4 linked regions of the Homo sapiens genome follow. The protein of the gene in region 1 purifies or fractionates together with the protein of each later gene. This does not show direct contact. Each region holds a gene or a part of one and is shown on either strand. Other genes may lie near its edges.

What was found.
Region 2: the proteins of NPTN (region 1) and EXOC7 purify together in Homo sapiens (co-immunoprecipitation; 2 studies listed by BioGRID and IntAct, with this or other methods). This does not show direct contact.
Region 3: the proteins of NPTN (region 1) and GNPAT purify together in Homo sapiens (co-immunoprecipitation; 2 studies listed by BioGRID and IntAct, with this or other methods). This does not show direct contact.
Region 4: the proteins of NPTN (region 1) and ATP2B4 purify together in Homo sapiens (co-immunoprecipitation; 3 studies listed by BioGRID and IntAct, with this or other methods). This does not show direct contact.

What each region holds. Positions count from the first base shown.
Region 1 is NC_000015.10:73,623,388-73,630,411, reverse strand, and holds part of NPTN (neuroplastin isoform b precursor), read left to right. Parts: intron 1-7,024. UniProt on the Homo sapiens protein: Probable homophilic and heterophilic cell adhesion molecule involved in long term potentiation at hippocampal excitatory synapses through activation of p38MAPK. May also regulate neurite outgrowth by activating the FGFR1 signaling pathway.
Region 2 is NC_000017.11:76,093,770-76,100,793, forward strand, and holds part of EXOC7 (exocyst complex component 7), read right to left. Parts: intron 4,308-7,024; exon of another isoform or gene 4,250-4,307; coding exon 4,027-4,249; intron 813-4,026; coding exon 645-812; intron 1-644. UniProt on the Homo sapiens protein: Component of the exocyst complex involved in the docking of exocytic vesicles with fusion sites on the plasma membrane.
Region 3 is NC_000001.11:231,236,444-231,244,223, reverse strand, and holds the start of GNPAT (dihydroxyacetone phosphate acyltransferase), read right to left. Parts: upstream 3,013-7,780; 5' UTR 2,846-3,012; coding exon 2,768-2,845; intron 1-2,767. Other genes in the region: FSAF1 (40S small subunit processome assembly factor 1), read left to right, coding at 3,083-3,200, 5,036-5,367. UniProt on the Homo sapiens protein: Dihydroxyacetonephosphate acyltransferase catalyzing the first step in the biosynthesis of plasmalogens, a subset of phospholipids that differ from other glycerolipids by having an alkyl chain attached through a vinyl ether linkage at the sn-1 position of the glycerol backbone, and which unique physical properties have an impact on various aspects of cell signaling and membrane biology.
Region 4 is NC_000001.11:203,629,824-203,636,847, reverse strand, and holds part of ATP2B4 (plasma membrane calcium-transporting ATPase 4), read right to left. Parts: intron 1-7,024. UniProt on the Homo sapiens protein: Calcium/calmodulin-regulated and magnesium-dependent enzyme that catalyzes the hydrolysis of ATP coupled with the transport of calcium out of the cell. By regulating sperm cell calcium homeostasis, may play a role in sperm motility.

The sequences.
Region 1 (7,024 bases):
TTTAAAGAGGAACTTGTTCTAAAAAGTAACCTTATAAGACATTCAAAAGCATTAGACTGCAATTGAGTGAGTGTAAACAAAGCAGTATAATGTGATGATCAAGAGTGCAGGCTTTGGACGGTGACAGACTCAGGTTTGAGTTCCAGCTGTCAGTAGCTGAGTGATCTTGAGTAATGCAAACTTCAGTTTCATCAGTTCATCATCTGTAAAGTGGAGATTACAATCATGTCCATTCCCTAGGGATGATGTGAGGATTAAATGAGATAATGACCGCTTAGATTTCAGCCTGAGTCTCAGTACATGTTAGCTATTACTACTATCCTTTAAAAAGGAGCATTATTTTTTATTTATTTTTCTTCATGTGTATATTGAAAACTTGATTGTTAATGCTGCTGTCATGGTAAATAGGCCATTTGAAGGCCCCACATAGAGATTTGTGCTTTTGCTTATGTAACTTTCTCAGAAAAGTGACCAGCTGCACTGTGTCTGCAATTGCCAATTCTGGTGAGGAAGTTAATATTTTTATTTGAGTTTCTGGGAGAGACTTTATGGCTTTTTTTTTTCTTTTTTTTCTGTGAACCAAATCTTTCAAGTGGGCCAGGTATCACTTTCTCATAGAGTATTATTGTTGTGAATAAGAGAAATAGAGTGTGGTACCCGGCACACAGTGGGAGTGTTATAGATGTTAGCTGAATTAATGAATGTGGAGTGGTGTGTAAAAACGTAATATATTCATATGGAAAATATGACATCACAAAATTAACACTGTTCAATGGAGGAAAATAAGGAATCTAATGAATCTTATTTTTAACGACCTAAATTTTAGAAACCATTTTGTTTGGGTGATACTAGATAGTTGTGAACATTGTGCTTTGTAATAATGCCAGTATTTGCATTAGATGATTCATGGATCTTTTTCTTTTCTGTCAAGGGCTGTTTGCTTCAGTGGTTTAGCAATTTTCTCTCACTGAGTACATTTTTAGAGGTGTATTTGCTAATTGATTGCGTGTTTCCTCTTTGAACTGAAATGAGCAACAGAAGACACATCTTATCTATGGCAGCTGTGGCACAAATGACATGCCGAATGTCAAGCAAAAAATTTTGAAATAATCCAAATAAGATTTGACCAGAAGAAATAGTTTGCCTTGACATAAAGCCCTTCCTAAGGAGATCACAGGCTTTCAGTCTCTCAGGCTACTGGCTAAAATGTCACTACTGATATAATGCAGCACCCAGGCATGAGAAATTGGTTCGGTCTGGGAGGATAGGCCATGTTACTACATCAGGACCCATTCCCTGGGTTTGTTTTACAAGGTTACTGGATCCAAATTAGAAAGAGATACAGATGGGTTTTTGTGTTGCCAGACGCAGTAGAGCTTAACTTGTGAATATACCAAGATTTAAAACCACAAAAGGAAATAAAACCCCTTAGATGTGAGGTTGGAATTCATTACAGGTCTGACTTCGCTTGATTAATACAGATCCTTATGAGAAATTAGACTGTTTTAAGGGAATCCCATTGTTTTTTCTCATTAATACAGATTTGATGTGAAACAGTTTCTTTTGTGGAATATGCCTTTAGACATTAATAAAAAGCAACATTATATTATCTTTATTTTAACTTTAAAATAAAGTTTAAATAAAAATAATTATTTAAATTAAAAAAAGATTTAATTGGGCCTTGAAAGATGACCAAATGTAATTAGAAAAGTGCTCTGTCAGTTTGAACATTGTTTTTCATTAGTCTGAGGTACTTTTTAAAAGTAAGATGTTTTGTGTGTAAACTCTGAAACTTGCTGGGTCTGTGTAAAGGTTTTTTACAACGATTCGGGAAGGAGATAAAGTGCTAATATCTATTAAAATGAAGTATGTAGAGAAACAGTGAGTGACCATGTTGGATACCATACAAGAGATGTTCAACAAAAGTTTGAATAAAATTATGCAGAGTAGTTTTGGAAAAGTGAATTTTATGAAAATCGTTCTGATGTATTCTATTCAATTTACTGTTTGCAGTGAGAGTACAATCTGGACAGGATCAGAAGTAGAGAATGAAGTTGTAAGAGAAAGGGAAAGACAGAAGAAAGGCTGCAGTAGTACAAGGAGAAAAGCAGGATGCAAGAATGAGGAATGAATCTTTGTTTGAGGAGCATCCGGAAAAATATAAGCTGTCAGAAAGAGTAAATAGACCAGGGACCTCTAAAGTAAATTCACACATCAAAGTTAAAATAATGTTGGAGAATCACCTCCTGTGAAAAATTGGCTTAGCTTTCAGTATGCCTCTTTAAACAAAACATTATCATTTTATACAAATTTTTAAAATGTTGTTCATAATATGGAGTTTAATTTTAAGCACCTTAGATAATGCATTTGTAAGCTTGTTTGTGAAATTTTTATGGATTTTTTTTTTCAAAATTCCTAATTTTAGTTGGTAAGGATTAACTTCGGGAAGACAGGAAACCCCTCCAGTAAAATTAATTGGTTATAAATGGTTACATATTTTAGGCTTATATACATAACAAAACTTCTTACTGAATTTAAAAGTGATCTTGTGTAAAAACATTATTCTAGTGATATTGATGTCTAAATTTAAAAGAGTGAATACACAAGTAAAATATATCTGCTTTTTAAGGATCTATTCAGTTTAGGAAGGAGAGTCAAAATTTGTATTTAATTTCAATTTATTATATTGTCTGAAACTGAAAGTAGGCCTAACTTTTGTTTGCTTTTGTGTATGTACAAAGGCAAACATTTATCAATCAACTCTTATTAATTTGAGATTATTTTGACCTGATTGCTCAGAACTTTTGTCTATCTGTATAGAAATGGGGTTTTCTAAATATTTAAAGAATTTCCTACGTATGTAAATTTACTTGCACACAGTAAGTTAGGGGAGACATTTAATATTCCTCAGATACCTGCTGTTTTCTTGTTGTGTTTCTTGTTTTTCAAATAAATAAACTGAGTGTTATCTGTTCATTAAAATAGAATGTAGTCAGCTCGAGGGAAACATTTTGTATTGAGTTTCTTGTACTAAAAAGCACTAAATGGTATTCTCTTGCATTTCTGAAACAATTATGGAATGTTTTAAGACTAGCCTTCCTACCAAATAATCTTAACTACTGGAGCTTTATGATATACTTTATGGTATTTTCCAGAAATATGTCAATTTTTTTTTAAAGATGGAGTCTTGCTCTGTTGCCCAGGCTGGAGTGCAGTGGCATGATCTCAGCTCACTGCAACCTCCACCTTCTGGGTTCAAGCAATTCTCCCTGCCTCAGCTTCCTGAGTAGCTGGGATTACAGGCGCCAGCCACCATACTCAGCTAATTTTTGGATTTTTAGTAGAAATGGAGTTTCGCCATGTTGGCCAGGCTGATCTCGAACTCCTGACCTTAGGTGATCTGCCCACCTCGGCCTCCCAAAGTGCTGTGATTACAGGTGTGAGCCACTGTGCCCGGCTGAAATATGCCAATTTGGATATCCTTCTCTTGCCTTATTAAAAATCATCGGTCACCCAGGTATTACTTCAAATTTACTAGACAGTGAAATATAAATGAGATGGTATGAAATCACTCTGAAAGTATTAGGGTTGGATATATTATGTAAGTTTCTATAATTAGAAAGCATTAAGTCCCAAATCGTACCAATAGTTTTAATCATATCTAAATGGATACTCACATACTAAATGTGATTAAATATAAAATGCATAACGAAATGTCACATCCTTTCCTGATAGAATACTAATAAGGCATAGTATTTCATGTGCAGGAAGATACAGGAAAACACACAAGTAAGAGTTTGTTTTGCATATATAAATTGTTATGCCTTTGAGATTCTTTTCTTCCTGATGGTAGGATTTGGAAACCATTGGACTAGATGATGTCTAAATTTCCTTTCAGTTCTAAAAATTACTAAATATCTTGCCCTTATAGCTTAGATACTGTCTCCAATAGGTTAAAGGCTCAGAGATGATAACACTTTCTGTTTAAAAGTTTTTAGAAACTTACTTTTGAATATAATGAAAATTAACTTTGAGGCATGCACTGTTTTGAAATCTAAATGCCTCTAAATCTACTTCAGACAACCCTTGCAGTTCTTGTTTCAAGGGAGGCAGAACCGTGTCTGTTATGCAGAGATCTTATATTAAACTTGCTGGGAAAATTGCCAGTGTGAATAAAGAAGTGAATATTCCTGCCAGGTAGGTAGGTATTTTATGATCTTTCTGTTGGCTGAAAGTGGTTGACTAATAAAGAGACAATGAAACACACTTAACTATTTGTATTTTTATGTTATCTTTCGAGAAAGTTTGTTTTCTATATATGAGTTAGTTTCTGCAGTCCCTTATGCATTTTTTAAGACCTGGAAATCCGTCCATTATAGTCGAAGAAGGCAACCCCAAGTGTTAACTGAATTAAATCCTAGCAAGTTCCTTGATTGTTATTCCTTAGAAACATTGTGTTTAAAGGTCTCAAGTTGTAAACATTCATGGTACTACTTTGTTATCTGTTAGGTCCATTTCTTTTCCTTTTTTTCTTTTAGATCTTTAGAATTTCAAACATGTACAAAAATAGATTAAGTAATGAATAAACCCCTGTGTATTCATCATCTAGTTTCAGCTACACCCTTGCTACTTATTAATTTAAAAATAACCTAAAAATTACATTGCAAACTAGAATTTTCTAGGACCTGAAATGTAGTCAGTAGGGGTTAGTTTATATGAGTAAAAGATAATATTTGGTTCACATGTAATCATGTTGAAATTACTTGAAAAATAAAGCTCTTGGCCGGACGCGGTGGCTCACTCCTGTAATCCCAGCACTTTGGGAGGCTGCGGTGGGCGGATCACGAGGTCAGGAGATCGAGACCATCCTGGCTAACACGGTGAAACCCCATCTCTACCAAAAATACAAAAAATCAGCCAGGGGTGGTCGCCGGCACCTGTAGTCCCAGCTACTCGGGGCTGAGGCAGGAGAATGGCGTGAACCCGGGAGCCGAGAACATGCCACTGCACTCCAGCCTGGGTGACAGGGCCAGACTCCGTCTCAAAAAAAAAAAGCTCTTTAGAAAAAGGCTTTCAAACTTTTTTGTCTGTGACCCAGATAGAGAAGTAGTTTTTGACTAATAGAAATTTATAACAAAATTACACAAATATGTAATATCTTGTGAAACATTACCTATTATTAATCTGTGTGAGGTAGTTAAGAGAACCATAGTGACCTTCTAAATTGAATTCACAATTCATGGGCCGTGAAACTCAGTTTGAAAAACAGCATTTTCAGGTATGGAGTAGTTTGGGGCTTTTGTTTATTTTTTACATGCCATGTTAGTCTGGAATAATTATGATTTTTGTTAACACAAGGATTTTCACTAGACATTTATCAGTAATATCAGCATATACTGTTATTAGTCATTATGAGTAAAGAAAATAAAACATTTTGGATTTATACATTAGCCATTATATATAGCGATTTTTTTTCCTTTTAGAACTTTAGAAAAAGGGGAAGCCACAGTAATTTGAATATAATCAAGACATAACTTTTCCAGTATATTCAGTTGACCTTCCTTTTAAATTAGACCTTGTGTTCCTTATTCCTGAGCCTTTGAGTTTGCAGGGCTGGGAGTACTAATGTTTATTCTAAGCCAAATGCTTTACTTGGTTGCTGTAGTCTGAGGCACATTTCTGTTGAGTACAGATTGACTTGAATACTGGCCAAGGGAAGAGAGAGAGAGGGTAAGCAGAACCATCACTAAAGAATCATCTGCCGTTCATGTTTAAGATCCTAGAGTAGTGGGATTATTTCCTAGTTTTTAGACACTGCTTCCTGGAGGAAAAAAAGGCAACAAGATGTCCTCCTTTGTTGGCAACTATCTGTGAAAAACTTCTAAATTCATAGATTGAAGGAATGTGTTAAATTTAACTTGGGATTTTTTTGATTATACGAGTTTAGCAGGTTTGGGAATCATTGCCGAACAACTGGAAAAAAATAGCACAAGGAGCTCCAGCATTGAAATTATATTCATTAATGCTGAATCTCAAATCGTGCATCAAGGGAGATGAAATAAATGGCCTTAATGCAAACCAGGAAACTGCTACCTGGAAAAAAGCAAGTATAAAGAGGTTTCAAATAGCTTGCAGTGAACTGTCATTGAATTACCCTTACACAAATAACATAGTGATCACGTATCAAAAGTATGGTGCTAACCTAACAGCATTACTGTTTTCTACTAGGATTGAACTCCAAATAAGAATACTTTCTAACCACATTTTGGAAGAGACATAGAATCTATGTTGATGGTAGCTTAAGATTTAGGAGAAAAGCCTGAAGGAGCTAAACTTAGGAACAGGGAGCACTAGGGGGATGTGATTATCTATTAATACTTTCAAGGTAGCAGTGTAAATGAAGTAAGGGAATTAGGCAGTCTCCAAAGATGGATGGGCTGTATCAAAGAGCAATGGCCTAGAGCACAGGGAAGAAAGCATAGGTTTAGTATTAAGATGATTTTAATGAAACTAGCGGAAGAATAGAGTTATTTGCACTCATCGTCAGAACCATTATAAGTAGGACAAAGAGCTGGTTGAGAGGGTACTCAAAAACAGAAATGATCTCTTTCTTACATAGTACTGTGCTTGTTTAGAAGCTCAATGAGAGAAAAATATGGAAATGAATATGAAATGAAATGGACTTTTCAAAAGTTAGTGTGTTTTTCTGTTGTTTGTTTTGTTTTGAAACAGGGTCTCACTCTGTTGCCTAGGCTGGAATGCAGTGGCGTGATCATTACTCACTGCAGCATCAACCTTCCAGGCTCAGGTGATCCTCCTGCCTCAGCTTTCCAAGTAGCTGGGACCACAGGCGCATACCTCCATGCCTGGCTAATTTTTGAATTTTTTGTGGAGATGAGGTCTCCCTATGTTGCCCAGGCTGGTCTCAAACTCCTGGACTAAAGTGATCCTCCTGCCTGTGCCTCCCAAAGTGCTGGGATTACAGGCATGAGCCACAGCCCCCCTGCCAGCCAGAAGTTTTTAA
Region 2 (7,024 bases), on another chromosome or scaffold:
ATATGATGCCGGGGAGAAAGAACAGACAGATGACGAGATGTTCACCCAGGACAGCAACACCCACCGGCCCCGGCCTCTCATCATGGTGCCCCTTTCCACAAGTCACTCGCTCGCACTGGAGCCCAAAGCCAGTTTAAGTTCTTCCGAGAGGATGCTCTGGGGTTTCTTTCCTTTCTGGATCAACTGGGAAAGTGAAATTCTCCCCATCCAGCTCTCAGCTACACGTCACTTCAGATCACCCTGCCTTTCTGGAAGGTGAAGGTTGGAGCACCTATCCCCTTGCTATCCCAGCATCCTGGCTGCAGTAGTGTGCCTGGCCTTCTGACAGGGCGACGTGTGTGTGAGGGAGGAGGCCTAGGCAGGGGCTCTGCCTCAGGCGGGATTCGCTGAGCACCTGTGTTACTCCCCTACTCCAAAGAAGCTGTGTAACCCCAGGCTCTGCTAGCTGGAAGGAAGAGTCTTGCTCTTGGGGGGCTTCACTGGGTGGGTAGACACTTGCTTTCTGTCCTGTGTACCTACAGTCGGGGTTACCACGACGACAAGCTCTGGAGGGGCCTGACGCTGCGAACGCTAGATTGGACTAAAGCAGTACAGTCCCAGTCAGCCTCTGGCTGTTGCAGAGATGGGCCAGGATGGGGGCTCACCTGGCCGCTTGACTGGCTTCTTGGTAGGTGTGTCTTTCCTCTTGTTGGGGATAGCAGGGGAGTAGGGAACCCCAGAGGAAGAACTGCTCTTATGGAAATGCTCCTTCAGTCCTTTGATGGAGCGGTCCAGCTGGCTGGAGCGTATCTGGTAGTAGACGTTCATGAAATCTGAGGAGACACAGAGGGATAGAGGTACGGCTGCCAGGCCCTGTCTCTGCCTTGCAGACCCACCATGTCTACCTGTCAAACCTGTCAACCCTTCTTAGCATCTGCTCCCTGCTCTGGTCACAAGCCACCCATATCTTGTCCCAAATCAGGCAAAGTCTTTCAAAGTCTTTTTTTTTTTTTTTGAGATAGGGTCTTGCTCTGTTGCCCAGGCTGCAGTGCAGTGGCACGATGTCAGCTCACTGCAGGCTCGACCTCCTGGGCTCAAGTAATCTGACCACTTCAGCCTCCCAGAGTGCTGGGATTACAGGCGTGAGTCACCATGCCTGGCCAGGCAGTCTTAAAAGAGAAAAACACCCTCTGATAGAACTGATAATTAGTTGTAAGTTGTTTTTTTTTTGAGACAAGGTCTTACTCTGTCGCCCAGGCTGGAGTGCAGTGGTGTGATCTTGGCTCACCGCAAACTCTGCCTCCCAGGCTCAACCAATTATCTTGCCTCAGACTCTTGAATAGCTGGGATTACAGGCATGAGCCACTACCACCCAGCTAATTTTTGTATTTTTAGTAGAGATGGGGTTTCACCATGTTGGCCAGGCTGGTTTTGAACTCCTGACCTCAAATGATTCACCAGCTTCAGCCTCCCAAAGTGCTGGGATTACAGGCATGAGCCACCGCCCAGCCCTAGTTGTAAGCTTTTTTTTTTTTTTGAGACAGAGTTTCATTCTTGTCATCCAGGCTGGAATACAATGGCACGATCTTGGCTCACTGCAACCTCTGCCTCCCGGGTTAAAGTGATTCTCCCGCCTCAGCCTCCCAAGTAGCTGGGATTACAGGCATGAGCCATGGCGCCCAGCCCTAGTTGTAAGTTTTAAATAGTACTTTTTTTTAAATAAAAAAACAAAGTTAATATCCAGATTCAACTTGGTAAGGGGTCAAAGAACATGAGCTCTATAGGAAGCAAAAAGACAACAAATGTCAGTGAATGAAAAACACACATCTTTAGCCATTAATAAAGTATAAATTAAAAAAATTAGAGGACTGTGATAGTCCTATCAGATAGCAAAAACAAAAATTAATGAAGAACAAATGGCCATGGAACTGTCGATGAGTCCATCGATTGGCCTGATCTATTTAGAGAGGAGCTAGTGATGGCAAGAAGGTTACAAGTATCTTCAGACACTTACACCTAATCCCTGCACCCTTGAGAATAAACCCTCAAGAACTTCCTCAAAGAAAAAAGCAATTCACAAAGGTATGTCCATTTTGGTACCATTCATCAATGCTGAAAAACAGGAAGAGCTCCTTGCACACATGACTGAGGAAAAGGACATGAAAACTATGGTGGATTTCAGAAGTTCCCAACAAATAGTTTACAAGGAACCCCGACAGAAGAAATGAACCAAAACACAGAGGCACAGGCTGAGAGGTCTGGAGGCTGTCCACTGCGCCTCCCTCTTGATCCTAAGGAGCTCCTGAAAATCTTCTGCCGAGCTGTCATCAGCTCACGAGCCACAACGTGTTCATGTGATCAGATACATCGCGGCCGTGAGACCTGCCGCCACACAGTTCTGGGGCAAGGCAAGCCCGCGCTGACAACTTGGTATGTGTACACACAAACAAAGAGAAGAGTTGGAGGGCTAAAAAGTGCAACATTGCCAGGCGAGGTGGCTCATGCCTGCAATCCCAGAACTTACAGAGGCCGAGGCAGGTGGATCACCTGAGGTCAGGAGTTCAAAACCAGCCTGGGCAACATGGTGAAACCCTGTCCCTACCAAAAAATACAAAAATTAGCTGGGCATGGTGGCGGGCACCTGTAACCCCAGCTACTTGGGAGGCTGAGGCAGAATTGCTTGAACCCAGGAGGCAGAGGTTGCGGTGAGCCAATATCATGCCACTGCACTCCAGCGTGGGTGACAGAGCGAGACTCTGTCTCAAAAAAAAAAAAAAAAAAAAAAGTGCAACACTGAATATCTATTGGAGTTTTTCTTTCTTCCTTTCTTTTTTTTGAGATGGAGTTTTGCTCTTGTTGCCCAGGCTGGAGCGCAATAGTGCACTCTCACTGTAACCTCTCGGGTTCAAGAGATTCTCTTGCCTCAGCCTCAGTAATAGCTGGGATTACAGGCATGCGCCACCACGCCCAGCTAATTTTGTATTTTTAGTAGAGATGGGGTTTCTCTATGTTGGTCAGGCTGGTCTTGAACTTCTGACCTCAGGTGATCCGCCCACCTTGGCCCCCCAAAGTGCTGGGATTACAGGCATGAGCCACTGCACCTGGCCTTCTTTCTTTTGAGACAAGAGTCTCACTTTGTCAACCAGGCTGGAGTACAGTGGCGTGATCTTAGCTCATTGCAACCTCCACCTCCCAGGCTCAAGTCATTCCCCGCCACCTCAGCCTCCCAAGTAGCTGGCTCTGCAGGCATGCGTCACCACACCCAGCTAATTTTTTTATTTTTTGTAGAGACAGGGTTTTGCCATGTTGGCCAGGTCTCGAACTCCTGAGCTGAAGCGATCCACTCACCTCAGCCTCCCAAACTGTTAGGATTACAGGCATAGCCACAGCACCTGGCATAAATAAACCTTAATAGTGCTCATCTTTGGCTTATGTAATGGAGGCATCAGGGAATGGGAGATGGACTTTTACTTTTCACCCATGGCTTTGAAAATTTTACAACTAATCAAAAAAGGCAAAGGAACATAAAAATCAAGACAAGAAAAGTTTGAATTTGCCTAGATTCACCACTTGATATACAAGTCATAGAATGGTTGCTTATATTCTTATATTGGTTCCAGTTAAACATCCTTTTATCAAAAAAACCATGACAGGTGGATTAAAGAATAAAGGGGGCCAGGCATGGTGGCTCACATCTGTAATCCCAGCACTTTGGGAGGCTGAGGTGGGCAGATCACCTGAGGTCAGAAGTTCAAGACCAGCCTGGCCAACATGGTGAAACCCCATCTCTACTAACAATACAAAACTTAGCCAGGCATGGTGGCATGCGCCAGTAATCCCAGCTACTCGGGAGGCTGAGGCAGGAGAATCGCTGGAACCCGGGTATGCAGAGGCTGCAGCAAGCCGAGTTGCACCATTGCACTCCAGCATGGGCAACAGAGCAAGACTCCATCTCAAAAAAAAAAAAAAAAAAAAAAAAAAAAGAACAAAGGGGAGAAAACTCCCTCTGCCTCTGGTGTGTCATGTGGCCAAGCCAGAATCCCTTACCTTGGTTGCGGCCATATTCCACCAGCCAGCGGGAGATGCGAATGACATCCTGGAGCACGCTCTCGGGCAGGTGCTCCAGGGTCACGTCCTCCTGGGCCTCCAGATCATCGTCACCACTGATCAGATCCAAGATGAGCACGGGCGAGACGACCTTACTGTGCCGCGTCATCAGGCTGCGAAATTCGGACTCCAGGGCCTCCTTCCCGCGCTCAAAGAGCAGTTTCTGCACAGACAACAGAAGGAAGCAGGTGCCTGCTGCTTCAGTGTTCTGCCAGTCCTGGCCTTCCCCTGCCTGTGCCAGCTCTGTCTTCTTAACTCAGGGCCTCTGCCCTTTTCTGCCCTGATATCTTTTTTTTTTTTGAGAGGGAGTCTCGCTCTGTCACCAGGCTGGAGTGCAGTGACACAATCTTGGCTCACTGCAACCTCCGACTTCCTGGTTCAAGCAATTCTCCTGCCTCAGCCTCCTGAGCAGCTGGGATTACAGGCACGTGCCACCATGCCCAGATAATTTTTGTATTTTTAGTAGAGACGGGGTTTCACCATGTTGGCAGGATGGTCTTGATCTCCTGACCTCAGGTGATCCACCCGCCTCAGCCTCCCAAAGTGCTGGGATTACAGGCATGAGCCACTGCACCTGGCCTGCCCTGATATCCTTTAACCCAAAGAAGAAACGCTGGGAAGCGGCCTTGGTGACTCCTTTACTTCATGTTCTCTCAAAATTTGTGTTTACAGGTAAAACCCAGGGTTTTACAAGAAGTAGGTGCTTAATAAATACTGGCTGATTGGCCGTGCACGGTGGCTCACGCCTGTAATCCCAGCACTTTGGGAGGCCGAGGCGGGCAGATCACAAGGTCAGGAGATCGAGACCATCCTGGCTAACAAGGTGAAACTCCATCTCTACTAAAAATACAAAAAAAAAAATTAGCCGGGCGTGGTGGTGGGCACCTGTAGTCCCAGCTACTCGGGAGGCTGAGGCAGGAGAAAGGTGTGAACCCAGGAGGCGGAGCTTGCAGTGAGCCAAGATTGCGTCACTGCACTCCAGCCTGGGTAACAGAGTGAGACTCCGTCTCAAAAAAAAAAAAAAAAAAATACTGGCCGATTATTTTCTCACTGAACCGTTAATTTGTCTTCTTGTTAGTGGGGGGTTTGCAAAAGAAAATAAATAAATAAATTGAACAATATCAAGTTGAAAACTTTTGTGCTGCAAATGATACCACCAACAAAGTGAGGATAACCCACAGAATGAGAGAAAATATTTGTAAACTATGTATCTGATAAAAGACAGGTATCCCAAACATAAAAGAGAATGAATCTGTCCACACGATGACATATATAAGAGGGTTTATAGCAGCATTATTCACAAGAGACAAAAATTGGAAACAACCCAAGTGTCCATCAAAGGATAAATGGCTAAAGAAAATGTGGTCTGGCTGGGCACGGTGGCTTACGCCTGTAATCCCAGCACTTTGGGAGGCCGAGGCAAGCAGATCACCTGAGGTCAGGAGTTCAAGACCAGCCTGGCCAACATGGTGAAACCCCGTTTCTACTAAAAATACAAAAAATTAGCTCGGTGTGGTGGCAGGCACCTATAATCCCAGCTACTCGGGAGGCTGGGACAGGAGAATCGCTTGAACCCAGGAGGTGGAGGTTGCAGTGAGCCAAGATTGCGCCATTGTACTCCAGCCCGGGCAACAAGAGCATAACTCCGTCTCAAAAAACAAAACAAAACAAAAAACCAAAAAAAGAAACTGTGGTCTATCCACAAAAAGGAATATCATATGGCATGAAAATGAAATGAAGTACTGATACATGCTATAGCATGGATTGATCTTGAAAGCATCACGCTAAGTGAAAGAGGCCAGTCACAAAAGGCCATGTATTATAAGATACCATTTATATTAGAAATTCAGAATAGGCAAATCCATAAAGACAGAAAATAGATTTGTGATTTCCAGAGGCCAAGTCACCATCTTGCTCTGATGATCTAATGACCCCAAAACTTAAACACAAAAATATGATGAAGGCAGGTACAGTGGGTAATGCCCGTAATCCCTCCCAACACTTTGAGAGGCCAAGGTGGGAGGATCACCTGAGGACAGTAGTTTGAGACCAGCCTGAACAACACAGGAGACCTCATCTCTACAAAAAATTTAAAACTTAGCTGGGTATGGTTGCACATGCCTGTGGGCCCAGCTACTTGGAAGGCTGAGGTGGGAAGACTGCCTGAGCCCAGGAGTTCGAGGCTGCAGTAGCTATGGTTGTACCACTGCAGTCTGGCCTAGATGACAAAGCCAGATCCTGTCTCTTAAGATAATAATGCAAAAAAAAAAATCACATAGATTCAAGTTCCTAGAGTAGATTCACAGAAACAGAAAGTGGAATGGTGGTTACCAGAAGACAGAGGAAGGGAGAATGGGAAATTAGTGTTTGATGGGAGTGGAGTTTCACTTGGAGAAGATGAACATATTTGTGGAGATAATGGTGATGGCTACATAACATTGTGAATCTACTTAATGCCACTGTTAACTTAGAGTTAAAATAGCACATTTTGGCCAGGCACGGTGGCTCACACCTGTAATCCCAGCACCTTGGGAGCTGAGGCGGGCGGATCACCTGAGGTCAGAAGTTTGTGACCAAACTGGCTAACATGGTGAAATCCCGTTTCTACTAAAACTACAAAAAAAAAAAAAAATTAGCCGAGAGTGGTGGCGCACACCCTCCCAGCTACTCAGGAGGCTGAGGCAGGGGAATCACTTGAACCTCGGAGGCAGAGGTTGCAGTGAGCCGAGATCGTGCCATTGCACTCCAGCTTGGGAAACAAGAGCAAAACTCCATCTCAAAAAAAAAAAAAATTTATATTATGTATTTTTAACCAAAATAAAGGAACAACAAATGCATTTATAAAAATCAAACGTGGCTGGGTGCAATGGCTCACGCCTGTAATCCCAGGCCAAGGCGGGGGATCATCTGAGGTCAGGAGTTCGAGACCAGTCTGGCC
Region 3 (7,780 bases), on another chromosome or scaffold:
AATCACACCAGAAACCTATAGTCTTCTCAGACTTTCAAAAATATAAATGTACTTTGGAAGGCCAAGGCAGGTGGATCACTTGAGACCGGGAGTTCGACACCAGCCTGGCCGACATGGTGAAACCCCGACTCTACTAAAAATACAAAAATTAGCCGGGTGTGGTGGCAGGCAACTGTAATCCCAGCTACTTGGGATGCTGAGACAGGAGAATCTCTTGAACCCTGGAGGTGGAGGTTGCAGTGAGCCAAGATTGTGCCATTACACTCCAGCCTGGGTGACAGAGTGAGACACCATGTCAAAAAAAAAATACATATACACACATATATTTATATATATATGTGTATACACACACACACACATAGATGTAAGATTAAAATCTCCCATAAAGTTAAGATTTTATCCCTAAGGATATGTAAACACGACACATAAAATTTCTTTAGGAAATATCTGCCTACTTCCTTACTTTGTTTCTCATGTCTCCTTTCTTCCACCCAAATCTAACTAATTCTAACCCCAAATATGCAAGGGAGTAGTTTTTTTTACATCAACATCTAGGACAGTTTTCCTCTCCCTCATCTGCCATTCACAGCTCAAAAACTCAGCTCATGCCAGGCACAGTGGCTCATGCCTGTAATTCCAGCACTTTGGGAGGTGAGTAGATCACTTGAGGTCAGGAGTTCAAGACCGGCCTGGCCAACACGGTGAGACCTTGTCTTTACTAAAAATACAAACATTAGCAGGGCGGGGTGGCGTGTGCCTAAAATCCCAGCTACTCGGGAGGCTGAGGCAGGAGAATCGCTTGAGCCCCGGAGATGGAGGTTGCAGTGAACCAAGATCGAGCCACTGTTCTCCAGCCTGGCAACAGAGCAAGGCTGTCTCCAAAACAAAACAAAAACAAAAACAAAAACAAAAAAGGAAGATCAGCTTAGATATCACCTTTTCTTAGAAACCTTCTCCAAGTTCCCAAACTGGTCAGGTGCCCCTTCTTGTCTCTCCCACAACACGCTGTGCATGCTTCAATCATTGCCCTTACCATACTTAACTGTGATTGTTTGTTTACTTTTATGACTTTTTGTGCCCTTAAAGGCAGAGCCTGCATCTGTAACTTCTATATCTTGGAAACTGAGAATAATGAGTAGGATACTGTATATATTCCTAATGTTTGCTGCAATCAGCAGTATCTTCTACGCTTCTAAAGTGCTACTTTTAGATCAGAATATTACACAATAACAGCGTAGCTGGGGAAATAAAAACAGCCTGAAGTACTAAGAAAAAGTAAGGTTACCGTGGAAGTAAAGGTTATCCAGTCACAAAACAGTAGTGAGAACTACCAGTAAAGAGTGGGTTGCTGTCCAGCATCAGAACTACAGAATGCTCAGATACAACTGCCATAGTTTTTCACATGAAAAAGTGGACTCAAGTCTTATTAAAGAACCGTTGGTAAAGGGGAAGTAAAACAAACAAACAAACAAACAAAACCAACTCCTTCCTTTAATGTACAAAAGGAAAATTCCAACCAATTCACAAACCAGTTGGGAGCTTAAAAAGCTACATGTTAAAAGCTGGATCTGCACAGCAACCCTCTTCCCTTCGTGCCTGCTCTGGAGTAGCAGAGTCAGAAAACAAAGTTGATATCCACCACAGAACTGTGGGGAAGATAAGATCAATGAAGAGATATATCTAAATAATAAGGCTTATAGGCAGTTAGCAATCAGAAACCGAAAGGTCTTGATAGAGAGGGAACAGAAGTTTCTCCATGTTCCAAAGAATATTGGTGTCTCAATTTGAAGGAACCCATATATTCTCTTTCAAAACTGGGGTGTTTATCTTGCTCTGCTGTGTTATCCCTGTTTTGACCTTTCTGCACAAATGAACACTACATTTAAGCCAAAATTGGACAGTAATCACCAGGATATGCTAATATGCTTTTAAAATGAATTCTTTCATTTTCTCCTAAAGTAGCTAAAAACTAATTTAGTGGTTAAAAACAACAAGAAACAAACAAAAACCAAACCAGTTGCCCCAGGTCTGTGCAATCCTGAAGGCTATAAAGCTCCCATCTCATAATTTCTTCATGAAAATCGTGGGTGACCAACATCTGCCAGCCAAAAAGACCCGTTAAAACCAAGAGAGGAAGAGGGGGTTGGAGGAAAAAAAGACAAGCGGGAGAGAAGCTGGGTGGCGCTGGCTGTCCTCCAAAATGATTTGTGGAAAAGGTACAATAATGACTGGAAGACAAGAACAGGCAATAAAAATGTCTAGAAGTTCTAAATTTTCCTGAAGTGTTTAAAACTCTATTCCCACATACAAGCCAAGTGCTCTACTCCCAGGAATATAACAGCAGCATAGGGCGGGGTGCGGAGCCACAGGCTATCTCAGGGCGGGTCAAACCCGCAAGTTTCTCAGGTTTGCCCAAAAGGTAGCTCGACATGCCCTCGCTAGAGATGGGGAGACTCCAATTCTCATTCCTCATTCTCGTGTCCAGGAGCTTTCTGAAGGCCCCAGGGCCTGATAGAAAGAAAGAGAAGGAAAAAGTGGAAAGGAACCAAAGGAACCATAATCCGTAGAAACTTCCAAAAGCATGCACACACAGACACACAGCGATACACTGTTGTCCTGGAAACCAATCCAACCAACTAACCCCTCCTCGGGAGCCTAGGGGCCAGCTCTTTTGGGCAAGGGTGGTGGGCCGGAGGAATAGGGACTGGGAGAAAGGGGTACTATTTCGCGCGGCTCCGCTCTGGGCCTCTTTTCCCTGGGCGCCTACCGAGTAGAGGAGCACGACAGCGCTGGGACTGGTTGGGCCAACGGAGAAATAAGAGTTAGATGAACTGGAAGACTCCATGGTGCGGCTGCCTTCCCGGGCGGGGTCTGGGATTCTTTGCTAAGCCGTGGTGGTGCTCCTGCTGGGGGCGGTTCTTTCGCTCAGGACGGCCCTACTTCGCCTAGGGCGGCGGCACCCTCTGCAGCCGCTACACAGGATCCCGGGCGCCGCCATCTCAGCCAGGACGGAAGCCGCGCAGGGCCCTGCAGCGCATGCGCGCAGTCGCGGAACCCGGAAGCGGGGGTGCAGCGCGGCAGAATGAGGGTTGATTCCTCGGCTGACCCCACAATGTCGCAGGAGCAAGGGCCGGGGTCCTCCACGCCTCCCAGTTCTCCGACACTTCTTGACGCTCTGCTCCAGAACCTTTACGACTTTGGTGAGTGCGGGGTCCCAGGAGCCCACGTGGAGAACAGATTTGAGGAACGTGGGTCTCCTGTGTTGCCCGTCCTGGGTTGGCCTCTGCTTTGAGGCTAAAGGTTCTTGCATGTCAAGCACCCTTCGTCCCACCTGGTTCCAGTAGCGAACACATTTCTCCATCGGAAGTCACCCCTCGACCGGGCTCTGCTGAGTTATTCATCAAACCTTCCAACTCGTCCCCAAGTGTGGGGACCATCCTACTTGCTTGTAGGAAGCACCAAGGCTTTCCGATTTAAAAGTAGCCCGCTTTTCCACGTTTTCTTGAGCCCTGGGAAGTCCCCTTTCCCCATGCCACCCCCAAGACCTGCCTGACCCTGGTGCGATGGTGTCATTTCGCTCTGGGGCCTCGGGCCTGTTGGATAATACACCAGCTTCATCCTTGTGTGTCCCTCTCCAGAGACATCATAGTCCTTGGCGAGTTGTCCTTTTCACGACTTTTTTTTTTTTAAACAAGTGCGCTGATCTTTTACTCTCCGTTCTTTGTCTTGATGGGGGAAAAGGAAAATAAAAGAGCCTATTAAAGTCGCATGGCATGTCAGTAGGAAGACAGTGCCTCATACTCTGAAGAGCTTTCCCGGGAGAAGGTGACACCCTTTGCACATGCACCAAAGAAAATCATTAGATTTCAGGACAACACACATTTCTTAAATTTACAGCGTGATATTTTAAAAGCTATTTTTATTTTGGAATGACTGCTCAAAATTCTAAGTTCACCTAAACAGTAGGAATAATAGTTAAAACTGTTGAGAACTTGCCATATAGCACATGCTTTTCGTGTATTTGCTCATTTAATTTTCAACTTCATGAAATAGACACTGTCATAAATCCATGATTGCAGATGTAGAAACAAGTACTAGAAGTTCATGAAACCTGATGCAGGTTGTCTGACTGGTAATTTTTGCAGAGCCTGGGTTCTGATTCTAGCCCCAGACCCCATGCTTGTATTAACTAGCATTTCTGTGCCCTTGGACATATTGGAGGACAGAGAAGACTTAGTCTCTGACCTTGAGAAGTTTAAAATCTAGAGGAAAAGACTATTCTGCAAAATAATATAGTTCATGTCAACACAGGCTGGAAATCATGGTAGGAGCTCTGAAGGCATTGAATGTGTCTATTCATTTTTATATCCTTAATGCCAAAGTTTAGTTGGCTCTTAAATGTTTATTGTATAAAAGATTAAGCAAATAGTAGCAAGCATAAATCAGCAGCTGGTAATTTAGAGAGCTCTGTGGTATTTGTAATACATGTGAGTAAGGATGCCTAGGATTCTGGTTAGAACTTTCAGGTGACTGGTCAGAGCTTCAACAAGTGAAATATAGAAAGAGGAATTAATAGAAAACAAAGGCATTCAAATTGAGCCAGTTGTCTTAGGTTCATCTTAATTCCTAACTGTGAAAGAAAATAGGAAGACTATTCCATGTTCCTGTAACCCAGAAAGTGTTAAAAAGAAACAGTGGCTGCAGTGCCTGATATTTTTAGTATAAAGCCAATTGGGATTACCAGCCCTGGGGACTATTGCTGTGATGACACTTTGAGTAGGAACCAAAGTGGAGACTAAAGTGATTGTGCTAATAAGGGTCAAAGACATAGTTACCTAGGAAAAGATGACTACATTTTGGATTCTCTGCATTTTGCAAATACACTTATTTGAAAGAAAACAAATAGTTTATTTCTTTGTGTGTGCTTCTAGGTGCATATAGCCCTGGAATATGTACAAATACATTCGTAGGATTTGATACTGATGATAGCTAAGACTGAAAATATTTATTTTCCTTCTTGTGTTTGAACAAACAGGAGGTACAGAAGGTGAAACAGAACAGAAGAAGATCATAAAGAAAAGGGAAAACAAGAAGAGAGATGTGATGGCTTCAGCGGCCTTGGCAGCAGAGCCATCTCCCCTACCTGGTTCTCTCATAAGAGGCCAGAGGAAGAGCGCTTCGAGCTTCTTCAAGGAACTTAGAGAAGAGCGGCATTGTGCTCCTTCTGGGACCCCCACAGGACCAGAGATCCTTGCTGCTGCAGTTCCTCCCTCTTCCCTAAAGAACAATAGGGAACAAGTAGAAGTGGTAGAATTTCACAGCAATAAAAAAAGAAAATTGACGCCAGATCATAACAAGAACACAAAGGTAATGAGTTGGTTAGCTTATATATACGTGGTGAACCCCCTGGTATTGTAGTATTAGGTGAATAGCTCTTTAGACTGTGGCAGGAATGCCTGACTATCCTCAGGCCTGCAGATTTGCCAAAAGGACTCACAGGACCCAAGACTCAGCATATAGCCCTTATCAGTCATGTAGGCCTACAGACTGACCTTAGTTATTCAAGTTCTAGACCTCCAGTGAAAAGCAGGTATTCACCATCAATCACATTGCTAGTATAAACTGTCTGGGAAAACTTGGTACAGCAGTGGCTCAAGACCTCAGGTATGCAAAAACACTCTGATCAGGCAGAATATTCTAATTGCTCAATTCTCAGGAGGCAGCCAACTGCCAGTCATGAAAATAGGACTTTCTTGGGAATGTGCAGGGTTTGGTAAACACAGGCCTGCTGAGTTAACTCTTACAGCAACTCTTTCTGGCATTCCTGTTATGTGCTAGCCACAGTTGTAGGCACTGGGATATAGCAGTGAACCAAATGTATAGAAATTCTTGCTCTCGAGGAAAAGCAATGCTGGTGGAAAAGCAATTTGATTTTTCTGAGCAGTAATCTTTTTCAGAGTGAGCTTGTAAATCTCACCTAAAATTCAGTCCCCAAGGGAGGTGTGGTTGCTCCTCCAAATGTTTTTAATTTTTTTTTTTTTTGAGACGGAGTCTCGTTCTGTTGCCCAGGCTGGAGTGCAGTGGCACGATCTTAGCTCATTGCAAGCTCCACCTCCCAGGTTCATGCCATTCTTCTGCCTCAGCCTCCCAAGTAACTGGGACTACAGGTGCCTGCCACCACGCCTGGCTAGTTTTTTGTATTTTTAGTAGAGTCAGGGTTTCACCATGTTAGCCAGGATGGTCTTGATCTCCCGACCTCGTGATCTGCCCGCCTTGGCTTCCCCAAATGCTGGGACTACAGGCGTGAGCCACTGCGCCTGGCCCCAAATGTTTTTAATTTATCTATTCACAAGAATATCATAATGGCTTTGACAAATTCATTGCTATTCCATTTCTGTAACATCCCCCACGTCCTGCAAACCTTTGTCTATCAACAAAGAAGTGAGGATTGAACGTATTAGTTTCTAAGCCTGCTATAACAAATTACCACAAACATGGTGACTTAAACCAACAGAAATGTATTCTCTTACAGTTCCGTAGTCCAGAAGTCCAAAATCAAAGTGTTGGCAGGGCCATGCTCCCTCTGAGGGCTTTGGGGGAGAATCCTTTGCCTCTGACCAGAAGGTAGCTCTAACAGTTTCCTTGGCTTGTGGTTGCATAACTATAATCTCTGCCTCCGTCTTAATGTGGTTTTCATCCCTGTGTCCCTGAGTCTCATGTTTCCCTCTGCCTTCCTCTTTGCTTTAGGCCCACCCTGAATCTGGGATGATCTCCTTTTGAGATGTTTAATTATAAAGATCCCTCTCCAAGTAAGATCACATTCACAGGTTCTGAAGAGGAGTAGGACATGGCCATATGTTTTTAGAGGCCACAATTCTACCCACTACGAAGATGGTTTGGCTTGCATTGTTCTTTATGAATGTATAAATGTATGTTAGTGTCCAGTGTTTGCCACATCTTTATGGTTTTAAAAACCATCTGTATAATCTTTTCTAAAATTCAGGTAGCATTTCATATCAAGCTTGCTGGCATCTCTTCCTCAAAGATCGTTAGCGCATTCTGCAGGCTGAGCGTGGTGGCTCACGCCAGTAATCCGAGCACTTTGGGATGCCAAGGCCAGAGGATTGCTTGACTTCAGGAAGTCGAGACTGCAGTGGGCTGTGATTGTGTCACTGCACTCCAGCGGGGGTGACAGAGCGAGACCCTTTCTCCAAAAAAAAAAAAAAAGATTATTAGTGAATCTGTAACCATGTCTACCTTTATTTTAGGATTCTAGATAAGCTTCTTAACTCTTATGTTCCAAATATAAGGCTCTGGGAACTGTTACGGGAGGGTCAAGAAATGGATTCCCTTGGTGTTTGGGGCAACCAGAGCCCCGAAGCTGGCCATCTCCCAGTACCCCAGTGTACCCTACAAATACTGGTATTTTCTGTATGTGTCATGATATGAAAAATGTTGGTGAGCACTGCTTTGCAATATAATTCAGCATTTGAAGACTTCAACTAACATAAAGCATTTAGGCACCCTTTCTTGTTTCTTCAAATGTCTCAGACTTCAGTTTCCTCTTATATTCCCTCATGTTCTTTTTTCTGGAATGGAAAGTTTTCTTTTTAATAGAAAAGACAGAAGAGTTGGGATTGAATGAGTCTGCATTTCCCTGTTGCTTAATAATAGAACATCTGTGGCAGTCTGTCAAATTGTCTTTTGCTTCCCGTTCCAAGCGAGCCCTGATGCATTCTAGTTGGCTCTTCTCAGGAGCCTCAGCTCACTCTACGTTTTG
Region 4 (7,024 bases), on another chromosome or scaffold:
TTGTTACATTGTGCTAGACTCTATCTGTGATAAAAGAGTTTGGTTTGGGCATTGAGAGTTTTACTCCTTTGTCTTCTATAGAAGAGGAGGGTCTTGAATCAGGAATGTCTGTATGTCCAAACTTGGTTTCATGTAACAGTGCAGTTGATGAAGGCCCAGAGATATCCCCTGCTTCAATCAAGGTTACACAGCAGACAAGAGTCCAGATTACCAGTTTTCTGACTCCCAGTCCCGTGCTCTTCTGGCAAGCCTGGCAGCCCACTAGAACAAACTCCTCCCTGTCTGCCCCCTTCCAACTTCCTGGCTCCCGCTCTTTCAGGCTCCCTCACCAACACAGAAGGGGAATTGACTAAAGGATTAATAGCCGTCACCTACATGAGCCTACGTAAAAAGAGCCCTGAGTCATGTAGGGCCTAGCCCCAGGGTTTCCAGGAGAAGAGAGGGAGAAAAAGAGAGAGAGAAGCCATCCTGGAAACTCAATCTCTCTCCAGAGCGACGATCAGGATGGGGAGGCGGGGGTGGGTAGCACAATGATTTGGGTCAATGACAGGACAGCCAGGTGTGCTGCCCTTGCCAAGGGAGTGCCTAGAAGGCCTTGCTTAGCTCAGGCATGAAGGCTCCAGGCAGGCACTGCTTGCTGGTTTCTTTCAGAATCACCTAATTAGAGAATTCTAAGGGACACTAAAGGTTTGGTCAGCAACAATCTCTGGGCTGTTTGGTGAATTTCTTCTCTTACAGCCTGGGACCTGTCTCCTCAAAAGTTAGGTGGGTGACTCTGGAAGCCCTCAGTCCCCAGGTTCCCTCAGCTGGCCCCATGGCATGGTGGGAGAATGCCTGTCATCCTACCTCCCTTTGTGGCCCACTCATCAGGGCCCAGGTGCTCCTGTCTGGACAGGAGAGGCTGTGGGTGGGGAGCAGTGAGGGTGGGAAGGTAGGCTTCCTAAAGGACCTTACTTTCTTAGAAGATCCCTCTGTGTGCTCCATGGGGACTCTCAGCACCCAAGAGCTTAGAAAAGACACTCCTATTGGTCAGGAGTTTTGCAGATAAAGTGAGAAGAAACCAGGAATCTAGGAGTGCCTCTGGCATGGACTTCTCTCTCTGGCTAAGTATTTGGAAAAATTTCAAACCTGAAAGGTTGAAAAAAATAGCACAATAAACAACTGCAGACCCTTTACTTAGTTTCACCTTTTTTTTTTGAGACAGGGTCTCACTCTGTCAACAGGCTGGAGTATAGTTTCATGATCACGGCTCACTGCAGCCTCAAGTTATCCTCCTGCCTCAGCCTGCTGAGTAGCTAGGACTACAGACAGGTGCACAGCCTCCATGCCCAGCTAATTTTTTATTTTGTAGAGGTGGAGTCTTCCTATGTCATCCATCTCTACAAAAAAACAAAACAACAATAACAACAAAAAAATTAGCCAGCCATGGTGGCATGCACCTGCTCCAGTTACTTGGGAGGCTGAGGTCGGAGGATTGCTTGAACCTGGGAGTTTGAGGCTGCAGTGAGCTATGACTGCACCACTGCACCCCAGTCTGGGTGACAGAACAAGGCCCTGTTTCAAAAATAAATGGGGGCTGAGTGTGATAGCTCAAACCTGCAATCCCAGCACTTTGGGAGGCTGAGGAGGGTGGATCACCTGAGGTTGGGAGTTTGAGACCAGCCTGACCAACATGGAGAAACCTCGTCTCTACTAAAAATACAAAATTAGCCGGGTGTAGTGGTACATGCCTGTAATCCCAGCTACTCAGGAGGCTGAGGCAGGAGAATCGTTTGAAATCAGGAGGCGGAGGTTGCGGTGAGCTGAGTTTGCAGCATTGCACTCCAGCCTGGGCAACAAGAGCAAAACTCCATCTCAAAAAATAATAAATAAATAAATAAATGGGGCCGGGTGCGGTGGTTCATGCCTGTAATCCCCGCACTTTGGGAAGCTGAAGCAGGTGGATTGCTTGAGCCCAGGATTTCGAGCCCAATCTGGACAACACGGTGAAACCCCGTCTCTACAAAAAATATGAAAATTAGCCAGGCATGATAGCATGCGCCTGTAGTCCTAGGTACTTGGGAGGCTGAGGTGGGAGGATAGCTTGAGCCCAGGAGATCAAGGCTGCTGTGAGTTGTGATTGTGCCACTGCACTCCAGCTGGATGATAAAGCAAGACCCGGTCTCAAAAACAAACAAACAAACAAAGAGATGCATTTCTGTTGCTTAAGCCACCCAGTCTATGATGTTGTTTTAGCAGCCCAAACTAAGATATGCTAAGACCAATCTTTCACCCAGTGGTTTTAGTATCCATTAAACGCTAGACTAAATCAGCTATTATAGTAGAGGCTGCAAACTGGTCAATTTAAAGTTCCAGTCTGGCACTGTGTCTCACCCATTATCCTGGTGCTTTGGGAGGCTGAGGCAAGAGGATCGCTTGAGCCTAGGAGTTCAAGGCTATGGGCCACTGCACTCCAACATGGCTGACAGAGTGAGACCCTATCTCTAAAAATAGGTAGGTAAATAAAGATAATGTTGGCTAAAAGATGCAAAGTTTCAGTAGACAGAAGGAATGTTTCTGAGATTTACTGCACTACATGGTGACTATAGTTAATGTAATGCATGTTTCAGAATTGCTAAGAGAGATTTTAAATGTTTACACTACAAAAACAACGATAAATGTGTGAGGTGATGGATATGTTGATAGTTTGACTTAATCGTTCCGTAATGTATGCATATATCAAAACATCACATTACACCCCATACATATATGAAACTAGTATTTTTCTATTAAAATTAAATTTAAAAAAATTTTTTTTGAGACGGAGTTTCACTCTTCTTGCCCAGGCTGGAGTGCAATAGTGTGATCTTGGCTCACTGCAACCTCCGCCTCCCAGGTTCAAGCGATTCTCCTGCCTCAGCCTCCCGAGTAGCTGGGATTATAGGCATGCACTACCACGCCCGGCTAATTTTGTATTTTTAGTAGAGACGGGGTTTCTCCATATTGGTCAGGCTAGTCTAAAACTCCCGACCTCAGGTGATCTACCCACCTCAGCCTCACATAAAATTAAATTTAAAGAAAAATCTTGTCATTACTACTAGATTTTATTAGTTGGCATTTACTTTATTTATTTATTTATTTATTTATTTATTTATCTGATATGGAGTCTCGCTCTGTCTCCCACTGGAAGTGCAGTGGCACAATCTTGGCTTACTGCAACCTCTGCCTCCTGAGTTCAATCGATTTCCGGCTAATTTTTATATTTTTAGTAGAGACAGGGTTTCACCATGTTGGCCAGGCTGGTCTCAAACTCCTGACCTCAAGTAATCCACCTGCCTGGGCTTCCCAAAGTGCTGGGATTACAGGTATGAGCCACTGCGCCCAACTGGCATTTACTTTTTAATTTTTTGAGACTGAGTCTTGCTTTATCACCCATTCTAGAGTGCAGTGTCATGATCAGAGCTCATGGGAGCCTCAAACGCCTGGGCTCCAGCGATCCTCCTGCCCTGGCCTCCCAGTGTGGTAGGATTACAGAGTGAGGCCTTGTGTCTGGCCTCGTTGGCATTTCTGTTCAGAGTTTTCCCTCCCTGCTCCTCCCTGTCCATGTCAACTGTCAAAATAGACTCAAGGAATTTTTAATATTCAATGTGTTACAATCTATTACCATTATCCTTTGGAATGCTTAATGTGTTTCACCTCTGGTTGGCGGGAGACCCTTTAAGCCAGCTCCTGTGACAACATGTCATGACATGAGCATGCTCTAGTTTCTGGCACAACACAGTTCACTTATACTTTCCCAGTCTCAGACTTGAAATTAGTCATTTTTTCAAGGAGCACTGTTCCTTACAACCTCCCCCGTGGGAAGTTGTACTTAGAAATAAAAATCCAGGTACTAGGTGTGTTCCTTTCCACAGTCCTTTCAGTGGACAGACCCACAAGATATACAAAAAAACCCCGAAAGATTCTTTTTCCCCTTCCCCCATTCCATACTTATATCTCTCTTTTTCCATAGTGAGACCCTGATTTCCAGAAATATCACCATAGTTACTCATTTCATCTATCATACAATAAACGAAACAGTTTCCAATTTATGACACAAATACCACAACCAATAACATGTCTACAAAGTAAAGGTCAAGATTTCTTTGTAGGTGGTTTTTTTTTTTTTTTTTACTTAAAATATGAATATAGAATCAGGGAATGAAGGTTAAAAAGTACTTAAATTAGGCCAGGCGTGGTGGCTCACGCCTGTAATCCCAGCACTTTGGGAGGCTGAGGTGGGCGGATCATGAGGTCGGGAGATCGAAACCATCCTGGCTAACATGGTGAAACCCTGTCTCTACTAAAAATACAAAAAATTAGCCGGGCGTGGTGGCAGGCGCCTGTAGTCCCAGCTACTCAGGAAGATAAGGCAGGAGAATGGCGTGAACCCGGGCGGCAGAGCTTGCAGTGAGCCGAGATCCCACCACCGCACTCCAGCCTGGGCAACAGAGCGAGACTCTGTCTCAAAAAAAAAAAAATTTCTTACTTCTCCTGCTTTCTTATCCCAAAGGTGGCATACTATATACTGTACTATGTCTTGGTTTTTTCACTTAATAATATATCCTAACAATCATGTCATATAAGTTCACAGGGCTCCTAGTCATTCTTTTTTTTTTCTTTTTGGCTACCTAGGATTCTATTGTATGGACTGTACCATTGTTTGTTTAACCATTTTTTAAAGAATGGGCATTTGGATAGTTTCCAATGATTTCCTATTGTAAATATGCCTTTAAAAACCACCTTGTGGCTGGGCTTGGTGGCTCACACCTATAATCCCAGCTCAGGCAGGTAGATTGCCTGAGCTCAGGAGTTTGAGACCAGCCTGGGCAACACGGTGAAACCCCATCTCTATTAAAATACAAAAAATTAGCCGGTGTGGTGGCTAGCACTTGTAATCCCAGCTACTCACGAGGCTGAGACAGGAGAATTGCTTGAACCCGGAAGGCAGAGCTTACAGTGAGCTGAGATCGCGCCGCTGCACTCCAGCCTGGGCGACAGAGCGAGACTCTGTCTCAAAAAACAAACAAACAAACAAACAAAAATCACCTTGTACGTAGCTTTCCATATTTGTGAATGAGCACCTTCTGGATAAATTCCTAGACGTAGGATTGCTGGGTAAATGTGTACGTAGCTTTGTTAGATATTGCTAACTTCCCGGGCTCAATACTAACAGCCCGTCTTACCCCTGGGACTCCCAGCGCCCAGCACGGAGCCTGGGATGTTAGATGGGCTGTTAGTATTGAGGGTATACTACTTGTTTGTATTCCTGGCATTGATTTCGCAACCTAGGTAGACCTTGCCATGAGGTGTTCTAAGCTAAGACTTTCCTTGAACCTAGCTGAGAGTCCCTGACCTTCCTACCAATAAACGCACTGCTCCAAACTCCCTTTGCCACACCCCAAGTGAAGTGGCAGAAAGGCAAGAGGAAGGGGGTCTTAGTAATCCCATCCCAGTTCATCTTCCCTGAGTTGTCCCAGGGATTTGTGCATGAAACTTGGGAAACTAGAGCAGAGGTGAGTAATGAGGCTGAGGATCTTAGGCAGAGAGGAACTGGGGTGAGGAAAGGTAGAAATGGGGGCTCTGCCCCTTGGCACCTATGTTCTCAATCCTTTCCTTTCCTTTGGCCTCTCCACTATCCTTCACACATAGACTGCCTCTCAAGCCTCTTCCCTGACCCAGAGCCCTTGGCTCTGGTCCTCACTAGATCCTGCCTGGTTTCCCTCCTCAACTCAAGTTCATGTAGGCTGAACACAGAGGACTGGCTTAAGGTAGAGGCAGAAATAGAAAGTCCCTGTCATTTCTGTTTTAACATGTACAGAGGAAATAAGTCAGTGGAACAAGAATGGCTCACACAAGGGAAAGAGGAAAGAGGACACAAGGAGAGATACTGGCAGAGGAAGCCAAGGGCAAAACATTCCACACAAGCATTTTGGACTCCAGCCCCAGGGCCTGCTCTAATCCTATGACCTGCAGAAAAGGGGACATGAGTGGAGAAAGGTTGTCATCCCAGTCTGACAAGGCAGAGGCCTTGCTTTTCTCATCCCTCTTTCCTTCTCACCCCTACCCACCAAATACCCACTGGGATGACAGGAATCAATGCTTATCTGAGAAGCAGGGAACTGGGCTGGGTAGGGAGCCTTGTCTGAGGGGCGCCCTTCGGGGGAAGAATTCAGATTGCCTGAAGAATCCTTCCAGAGAAGGATAGTTAAGACTCTGGGTGGGGTGTTCCCCTTCAAGGTCAAACACTTGGAGCTAATCTAACCTAAGCCAAACAGTTTTTTAGGGGTTTGGCTAACGGGGTTTGTCTTGGTCATTCTGGGGACTAAGAATGAACAAGATCCTTTTCTCTCTCCAAGGCTTAGTGGGTCTGCAATGCTCTGTCCTAGTGGATAGGGCTAATCCATGTCTTTGGGTGCTGGGTCCAAGGCCAGGAGCATTGAAAAAAAAAAAAAAAAAAGAGAGAGAGAGAGAGAGAGAGAAAAGGGGTTTCGGAGTTTTTGAGAGAAGCTAAATTCTTGAATAAGGGGCAGTTTCCGGTGGAAGGCTTGACCTGCTGACAGGTGGCAGGGAGCAGCCCAGACCCCGTTCCTCTCGGGACCTCCGGTTAGTGGGAGTGGGGAAGAGTAAAGCCTCCCGATATCCTGGCCCAGGACATCCAGCCCCTACACATCACCTTACCTCTTCCAGCCCCCACACCTTCGGCAAATTCTAACTGCTCTCCTTCTGCCCCTAACTGGGCCCTCTCATTTTGATTTTCTTCTGACAAAGACCACAGCAGTGTGACAAATCTGCCTAGCCACGCCCTGTCACCTCTACCGTGGAGAGCAGGCTTTCCATTGTGCAGAGGGGAAACTGGAGGCCAGACGGCGGGTTAGGAACTCGCTGGCGTCAGGCTGATTCCAAGGCCCCCAAACTGCCCGTGCTTCTCTCAACATGCCTTGACCCAGCGCTCTAACATCCCAGGCTCCGTGCTGGGCGCTGGGAGTCCCAGGGGTAAGACGGG